Linked DNA regions of Homo sapiens: region 2 is reported to be linked to region 1. The links are microRNA targets in miRTarBase. Many come from high-throughput screens and were not tested one by one. Region 1 holds a microRNA gene; the other region holds the end of a gene's coding sequence.

Region 1 (4,261 bases):
CTCAAGTGATCCACCCGCCTCAGCTTCCCAAAGTGCTGGGATTACAGGCATGAGCCACCACACCCAGCTGATGTTCTTTAGTAGGAATATCTGGTGGAACCCCAAGATGGGGTCTTCATCCGCCACGAAGCCTGTTTCTATAGAAAGGGATAGTTCTGGTGGCTCTTAGGTGTGGTCCCTGAACCCCACACTTTCCACATACTTACACACCAACCTCCTTCCCCCAGGAAAACAAGAAGTCGGTCTTCAGGGTGTTACCGTGTAGCTCTGGTTCTGTATGTATTCTGTGCCTTTATGTATAATTGTGTGTATTTGCAATCATGTCTGTGGCTGGATGTATGTTGTTTATGAGTTTGTGTTTATGGTTTGTTTTTGTTTGTTTGTTTGTTTGTTTTGAGATGGAGTTTCACTCTTGTCATCGCCCAGGCTGGATTGCACTGGCGCAATCAAAAAAGAGTAAAATAACAGAAATCAGAATGGGCTTATAATACTCTTACCCCTCTCCACACAGGACAGAAGAGTCAATTTTATACTTTTGTGGATGTTCTAACTTCACCTGCTTATCTGAACCATCTTTATGGTGCAGACTAATATCTATTTTTCTGCTGTTACAGAAGAAGTGGGAACATTTTCTTCTTATCTTTCTGAGGTTATTTACACCAGTGAGGAGGGCCTGCAGTTCCAAGGTTAAGCACCAACATTCCACTGTTACCATTGAGAGCAAAGAGCAGACCCTAGAAGTGAAAACAAAACCTTTACCACAGGAAGACAAGAGCAAAAGATGATGTTCTTGAGTGGCATATGAAGATGCTCACAGCCAACATCACATGCCTATCAGATATTTTATGTACATCATCTCATCAACTCCAGGAGGCAGAGACTAAGAGACTAGCCCCAGTCACAGAGCTAGAAATTGGCCAAGACAAGGTTCAATCTGAGGACTGTCAAATCCAGAACTGGAATTTCTTTTTTTTTTTTTTTTTTTTGAGATGGAGTCTCGCTCTGTCACCCAGGCTGGAGTGCAGCGGCATGATCTCAGCTCACTGCAACCTCCACCTCTTGGGTTCAAGCGATTCTCTTGGGACTACAGGTGCACGCCACCACGCCTGGCTAATTCTTGTATTTTTAGTAGAGACGGGGTTTCACCATGTTGGCCAGGATAGTCTCAAACTCCTGACCTCATGATCTGCCCGCCTTGGCCTCCCAAAGTGCTGGGATTACAGGCATGAGCCACTGCACCTGGCCTTAGAAGCCTCAGTTCCTGATGGCAGTTGGGATCTGCCTTTCCTTCCCTGGACTGCCTACCTCTTGTCTTTTAGGTTACATATGAGAAAACAAACCTCCAATTCACCAAAACTATTGTTATTTGGGGAGCTGTCTCTTACTATCAGCCAAACATAACTCCTCAATGACACTGTTAGTTTAGCACTGCCATTATAATCAGGAGGGATCTGGGTCCAGCTGCGGGAACATGAAGAGGCACTAGTGGGATGACCACAGCCAGCCCCTGTTGATTCACCAGGAGACTGCAGATGCATGAGCAAGTCCAGCCAAGATCAGCCAGACAAGAACTCCCAGCGGAGCCCAGCCCAATTTGCCAACTCTCAAACTATAATTTTTTTTTTTTTTTTTGAGACGGAGTCTCGCTCTGTCTCCCAGGCTGGAGTGCAGTGGCGCGATCTCCCCTCACTGCAAGTTCCACCTCCTGGGTTCACGCCATTCTCCTGCCTCAGCCTCCCGAGTAGCTGGGACTACAGACGCCTGCCACCACACCTGGCTAATTTTTTTGTATTTTTAGTAGAGATGGGGTTTCACTGTGTTAGCCAGGATGGTCTCAATCTCCTGACCTCATGATCCGCCCGCCTTGGCCTCCCAAAGTGCTGGGATTACAGGCATGAGCCACCGCGCCCAGCCCTCAAACCATAAGTTAAATAGATGACTGTTGACTCAAGCCACTAATATTTGGGGTAACTTTTTTCTTTTTTCTTTGCTTTTTTTTTTTGAGACCAAGTCCCACTCTGTCATCCAGGCTGGAATGCAGTGGCATGACCTCGGCTCACTGCAACCTCCACCTCTGAGGGTCAAGTGATTCTCCTGCCTCAGCCTCCTAAGTAACTGGAATTACAGGCACCAGCCACCATGCCTGGCTACTTTTTGTGTGTTTTCAGTAGAGATGGGGTTTCACTATGCTGACCAGGCTGGTCTTGAACTCCTGGCCTCAAGTGATCCACCCGCCTCAGCCTCCCAAAGTGCTGGGATTACAGGCAGGGGTGAGCCACTGCGCCCACCTGGGGTAACTTTTTATGCCACAAAAGCAAACTGATGCAAGGCATTCCAAGAGGCCTTTGAGCCTCTTGCAAGTCAAGCTGATTGCAAGACACTCTGCCTTTGATAAAATGTAGTGGACAGAGAAGCAGTGGTTTCAGTGGCAGAGATGACAAATTGTTGCCCAATATTCGTTGTCCCCTTCTTTCTCAACAAAATGGAACCTCTGATTATGCTGGGTTTAGCATAGCCATCTAGAATAATGGTTACATATCCCAGTGTCGGGCCTCCGAGCCCAAGCTAAGCCATCATATCCCCTGTGGGCCTGCACATATACATGAAGATGGCCTGAAGCAACTGAAGATCCAAAAAAGAAGCGAAAATAGTCTTACCTGATGACATTCTACCATTGTGATTTGTTCCCGCCCCACCCTAACTGATACGATATATTCTGCCTGGTCCTTAAGAAGGTACTTTGTAATATTCTCCCCCGCCTTTAAGAAGGTACTTTGTAATATTCTCCCTGCCCTTGAGAATGTACTTTGTACGCCCATCCCAAACCTATAAGAACTAATGATAATCCCACCTTTGCTGACTCTGTTTTCGGACTCAGCCCACCTGCACCCAGGTGAAATAAATAGCCTTTTTGCTCACACAAAGCCTGTTTGGTGGTCTCTTCACACGGACGTGCGTGACATTTGGTGCCGTGACTAGGATCAGGGGACCTCCCTTGGGAGATAAATCCCCTGTCCTCCTGCTCTTTGCACCGTGAGAAGGATCCACCTATGACCTCGGGTCCTCAGACCAACCAGTCCAAGGAATATTTCACCAATTTTAAATTGGGTAAGCAGTCTCTTTTTACTCTCTTCTACAACCTCTCTCACTATCCCTCAACCTCTTTCTCCTTTGAATCTTGGCGCCACCCTTCAGTCTCTCCCTTCTCTTAATTTCAGTTCCTTTCCTTTTCTGGTAGAGACAGAGGAGACGTGTTTTATACGTGAACCCAAAACCCCAGCGCTGGTCACGGACTCGGGAAGACAGTCTTCCCTTGGTGTTTAATCACTGCGGGGACGCCTGCTTGATTATTCACCCACGTTTCAGAGGTGTCTGATCACCACGGGGACGCTTGCCTTGATCCTTCACCCTTAGTGGCAAGCACCACTTTCCTGGGGGGCAAGCACCCCCCACCCCTTCTCTCCATGTCTCTACTCTCTCTTTTCTCTGGGCTTGCCTCCTTCACTATAGGCAACCTTCCACCGTCCGACCCTCCTTCTCCCTTAGCCTGTGTTCTCAAGAACTTAAAACCTCTTCAACTCACACCTGACCTAAAACCTAAACACCTTATTTTCTTCTGCAATGCTGCTTAACCCCAATACAAACTCGACAATGGTTCTAAATAGCCAGAAAACGGCAATTTTGATTTTTCCATCCTACAAGATCTAGATAATTCTTGTCGTAAAATGGGCCAAAGGTCTGAGGTACCTGATATCCAGGCATTCTTTTACACATTGGTCCCTCCCTAGTCTCTGTTCCTAATGCGACTTGTCCCAAATCCTCCTTCTTTCCCTCCTGCCTGTCCCCTCAGTCTCAACCCCAAGCGTCACTGAGTCTTTTCAATCTTCCTTTTCTACCGACCCATCTGACCTCTCCCCTCTTCCCCAGGCTGCTCCTCCTCAGGTCGCTCCCCACCAGGCTGAATCAGGCTCCAATTCTTCCTCAGCCTCCTCTCCCCCGCCCTATAATCCTTCCATCACCTCCTCTCCCCACACCCGATCCAGCTTACAGTTTTCTTCTGCAGCTAGCCCTCCCCCACCTGCCCAGCAATTTCCTCTGAAAGAGGTGGCTGGAGCCAAAGGCATAGTCAAGGTTAATGCTCCTTTTCCTTTATCCGACCTCTCCCAGATCAGTTAGTGTTTAGGCTCTTTTTCATCAAATATAAAAACCCCGCCCAGTTCATGGCTCGTTTGGCAGCACCCCTGAGGCCCTTTACAGCCCT
Region 2 (4,261 bases), not on the chromosome of region 1:
GGAACCTGTGTCTCTGAGTCTGAGTAGGAGGAAAGGAACAGCACCTCAAGGGAGCATGTGACTCTAACTGAGTCTGATTAGGAGGAATCAGGCCTCAAGGGAGCCTGTGACTTTAATGGAGCCTGTGACTCTGAGTCTGACTAGGAGGAAAGGAACCAGGACTCAAGGGAGCCTGTGGCTCTAGCCGAGTCTGTGTAGGAGGAAAGGAACCAGGCCTCAAGGGAGCCTGTGACTCTAACCGAATTTGAATAGTAGGAAAGGAACCACGCCTCAAGGGAGCATGTGACTCTAACTGAGTCTGAATAGGAGGAAAGCAGCCAGGCTTCAAGGGAGCCTGTGACTCTACCCACGTCTGATTAGGAGAAAGAGAACCTGGCTTCAAGGGAGCCTGTGATTCTAGCCAAGTCTGATTAGGAGGAAAGGAACCAGGCTTCAAGGCAGCCTGTGACTCTTGCCGAGTCTGAGTAGGAGGAAAAGAACCAGGTCTCAAGGGAGCCTATGACTCTAAGCGAGTCTGATTAGGAGTAAAGGAACCAGGCCTGAAGGGAGCCTGTGGTTCTACCGGAGTCTGATTGGGGGGAAAAGACCAGGCATGAGAAAACCAGGCTGTGGAGGGATATCGTTGCGGGCCTCATTACCTGGCCGAGAATTGAAAGCCTCCTCTCCGGGCTGTTCAGGTATCAGAGCCTCTGTACCGGGCTGCATGGAAACAATTTATAGCCTCGTTTTCAGGCTGCCTGATCTCATCCTCTGTCTGCAGGGTGGCAGCGTTGACAGGGTGAGGAGAAGCAGGGGGGTGCGTCCACAATGGTTGTTGGCATGTTTCAGCTGAGTTTTGCTGGTTGGGGGAAATAAGTTCATTCGGGTCAGTTAAAAGATCATCATAAAGCGACAACGGGGGTGCGGTAGCCTCTTGCATACGTGGTGGCGGCACAGGCATGTCAGAGTGGAATTCCGCCTGTGAAATTATGGTCTCAATTTGTGCAGTATCCTCAGGGGAAAGAGAAGTGAGAAATTCCTCGCCCTCCTCAGGGAGAGGAAAGAGGGATCAGTCTCCATGCTGTCCTGAGTCTGTAAGGAGTCTAGGACAGAGCGAACCGAAGCCCAGATTGACCAAATGGTGGGTGGAATAAAATGTCCCCCTTTATGAGCAATTTTGAATTGTTGGCCGATCTCATCCCAATCTTTAAGTTCTCAAGTTCCCTCAGTCGGAAACCAAGGGCAAAGAAGATTTACAACCGCAAATAGTTCAATTAACTTTTCAGTAGAAACTTAAACCCCTCCTTCTTTAAGAAGAGTTTTTATAAAATTTAAATAAGCTGAGTACTTAGTACTGGCTTGTACCATGGTGTCCCCAGAATACTCTGAGTGCTCAAGCTTACCACCAAGCTTACTAACAGCAATCCTCAGGAATCTCTTGTCAAAATCCTCCGCTGAATCCCGCACTCAGAGTGCAACCTCACACAGCGAGGGAGAGCCCCACATCAGAGCGCCAGATGTAGGGTCCAGCCCCACAGGGTCAGTGGGTTTTCTCCCCATGTGCAGAGATGAGAGATTGTAGAAATAAAGACACAAGACAAAGAGATAAAAGAAAAGACACCTGGGCCTGGGGGACCACTACCACCAAGACGCGGAGACCAGTAGTGGCCCCAAATGCCAGGCTGCACTGATATTTATTGGATATAAGACAAAGGGGCAGGGTAAGGAATGTGAACCATCTCCAATAATAGGTAAGGTCACATGGGTCATGTGTCCACTGGACAGGGGGCCCTTCCCTGCCTGGCAGCAGAGGCAGAGAGAGAGAGAAGAGAGAGAGACAGCTTATGCCATTATTTCTGCATATCAGACATTTAGTACTTTCACTAATTTGCTCCTGCTATCTAAAAGGCAGAGCCAGGTATACAGGATGGAACATGAAAGCGGACTAGGAGCGTGACCACTGAAGCACAGCATCACAGGGAGACAGGCCTCTGGATAACTGCGGGCGGGCCTGACTGATGTCAGGCCCTCCACAAGAGGTGGAGGAGTAGTCTTCTCTAAACTCCCCCGGGGAAAGGGAGGCTCCTTTTCCCAGTCTGCTAAGTAGTGGGTGTTTTTCCTTGACACTGATGCTACTGCTAGACCATGGTCCACTTTGCAACAGGCATCTTCCCAGACACTGGTGTTACTGCTAGACCAAGCCCTCTGGTGGCCCTGTCCGGGCATAAGAGAAGGCTCACACTCTTGTCTTCTGGCCACTTCGCACTATGTCCCCTCGGCTCCTATCTCTGTATGGCCTGGTTTTTCCTAGGTTATGATTGTAGAGTGAGGATTATTATAATATTGGAATAAAGAGTAATTGCTATAAACTAATGATTAATGATACTCACATATAATCATGTCTATGATCTAGATCTAGTATAACTCTTCTTATTTTATATATTTTATTATACTGGAACAGCTCGTGCCCTCAGTCTCTTTCCTCGGCACCTGGGTGGCTTGCCACCCACATAGGCAGTCATGCCATTCACTGAAAAGCAGAAGCCAAAGGAAAACCGGAGCCTAATCAAGTGTTTTAAACACATCAGGTTTGAAATGCCTATGAAGCACCCAAGTGGAAATGCTGAGTAGGCAGCTGGGCTCCAGGTATCAATCTAGTCTGGGAACTGAGTTTGGAAGATACCAGCAAACATCAAGCCACCAATGAGGATTAGGTCACCTGGAGATTCCCAATTCCATGGAACAGAGGGCCTGAGACTGAATGGCCAACATTTAGACAAGAAGTCTGCCAAGGCTCAATCCAGGTCTCAGGCCAGAACTGTTAGCGCAAGAAGCTCCTTGCTCCTAAGAACAGAGCCTGGCCTGGTAGGTGCCATGCTGGTTCCCTGAGGATGATACCTGCTCAGGAATGAAGGCAACATGCACAAAGGTACCAGGTGAGGGACTGGACCCAGGGATACCACACCCCTGCATCTTCTGTACTTCCTCTAACATAGGTGGTCAGCATACTCTTTCACTCCTTATCCAATTTTATCAAAAATAGAGATTAGGGCAATATGACATAACAGCATTAAGCACTAAACCATTTGACAGGGATTCCTTTCAAAAGTGAAAACCAGTGTACGATTATACAGCTTCTCCACTAATCTTTGTTACCAACAGCCACTTAATCTAATCCTAAAGACTGAGTACAATATTCCTTCTACAATACTTTGAACACTCACTTCAATTTATTGCATATTTTCTAAATGCACCTCTCTCTCTCTTCTGAAAGAGAGAACATTTCATCAGAAAACGAACGGGGTCTTTTGCCTATCTGATGGTCTCACACCTTCACAACAGCTACAAATCCTTGGACCAGCCAGGGACAGACCAACTCCAGGGTTCTCTGACAACAGAAGTCCTGGAAAGGCTCTGCACTCAAAACAAACCCCTACACCACCCCAAGGGAGGGGGATTGTTTCAGGTTCGGGGAGACGCTAAAAGAAATTGAACCTAAACTCTTCATCAGGCATGTCCAGAGTGGCTTTGGCTCTCCATATAGAGCGAGGCCTGCAGACCCTTTGGCTCTTCTTTCTGGTGGCTCCATCTACAGGTTGCACCTGGGCTGAATAAGCAGCTGTCGGGGAGAGAAGCAGCGTATGTCAGAACTGAATAATAACAATTAACATTACCTGTACAGTTATGTTTGCCCATACAATTCTAACCACCTTGCATAAATTAACTGATTAATTCCTCAAATTTGTAAGGTTGATATTACTATCATCCCCCACTTAGAGAGGTTCAGTAGTTTGCAAAAGGTGTTAGTACTACTATGTGGTAGATCCAGGATTTGAACCTAGCTGATCTGGCCCCAGGAATTGCACTCAAACTGTTATGGGATATGGCTTCATTGCTAGTAGAGAAAGCCAAGACACAAAGACATGAGGCAGCTTTCCCCAACCCAGGAGCAGGACCAACATAGGACCATGCTCTTTCCCACTCCTCCCAGGGCCTCCCCGCTGCTTCCCAGGTTCAGTCCTAGGAAGAGGAAAGAGAGGTCCACGCTTTCTGTTTCCCTGCTCCCTCAGGCTTCCCTGAGCCCATCTCCTTCCCCCACCAGGCTTGTTGCTCTGGGCCTTCTTCCTTTCACCCCCTAGACACTTCCTCCTTAAGTTAGGCCTTCCTGAATCAACCAGTGGCTAGCTCCTCACCAGCTCTGAGAGCCCGCAGGGCCTCACGCCATTCGGCTTCCATCTGAGCCCTATAGTCTCCAAACAAGGAGTGCATCAGCTGCCTCTTC

The links. The annotated mature microRNA hsa-miR-7975 reads AUCCUAGUCACGGCACCA and lies in region 1 at 2,965-2,982, opposite strand. An mRNA with a match to its seed (bases 2 to 7 or 8) in the 3' UTR can be bound and repressed. Matches are read on the target gene's strand: a 7mer-m8 pairs with bases 2 to 8, a 7mer-A1 pairs with bases 2 to 7 and ends in A, and an 8mer does both.
Region 2: the mRNA of C8orf33 is a reported target of hsa-miR-7975. Seed matches in the 3' UTR shown: 7mer-A1 at 2,284-2,290.

Annotation. Positions count from the first base shown.
Region 1 is chr19:55,120,261-55,124,521 of GRCh38, forward strand. It overlaps MIR7975 (microRNA 7975), which reads right to left and starts at 3,032; the gene lies at 2,965-3,032. RefSeq lists an enhancer at 671-760.
Region 2 is chr8:145,053,355-145,057,615 of GRCh38, reverse strand. C8orf33 (chromosome 8 open reading frame 33) reads right to left here. Exons shown (of 5, transcript NM_023080.3): 4 at 4,173-4,261; 5 at 1,586-3,598. The coding sequence ends at 3,459. Among named protein-coding and RNA genes, the nearest start is that of C8orf33, 3.0 kb to the right of the region's middle. RefSeq lists an enhancer at 3,775-4,261.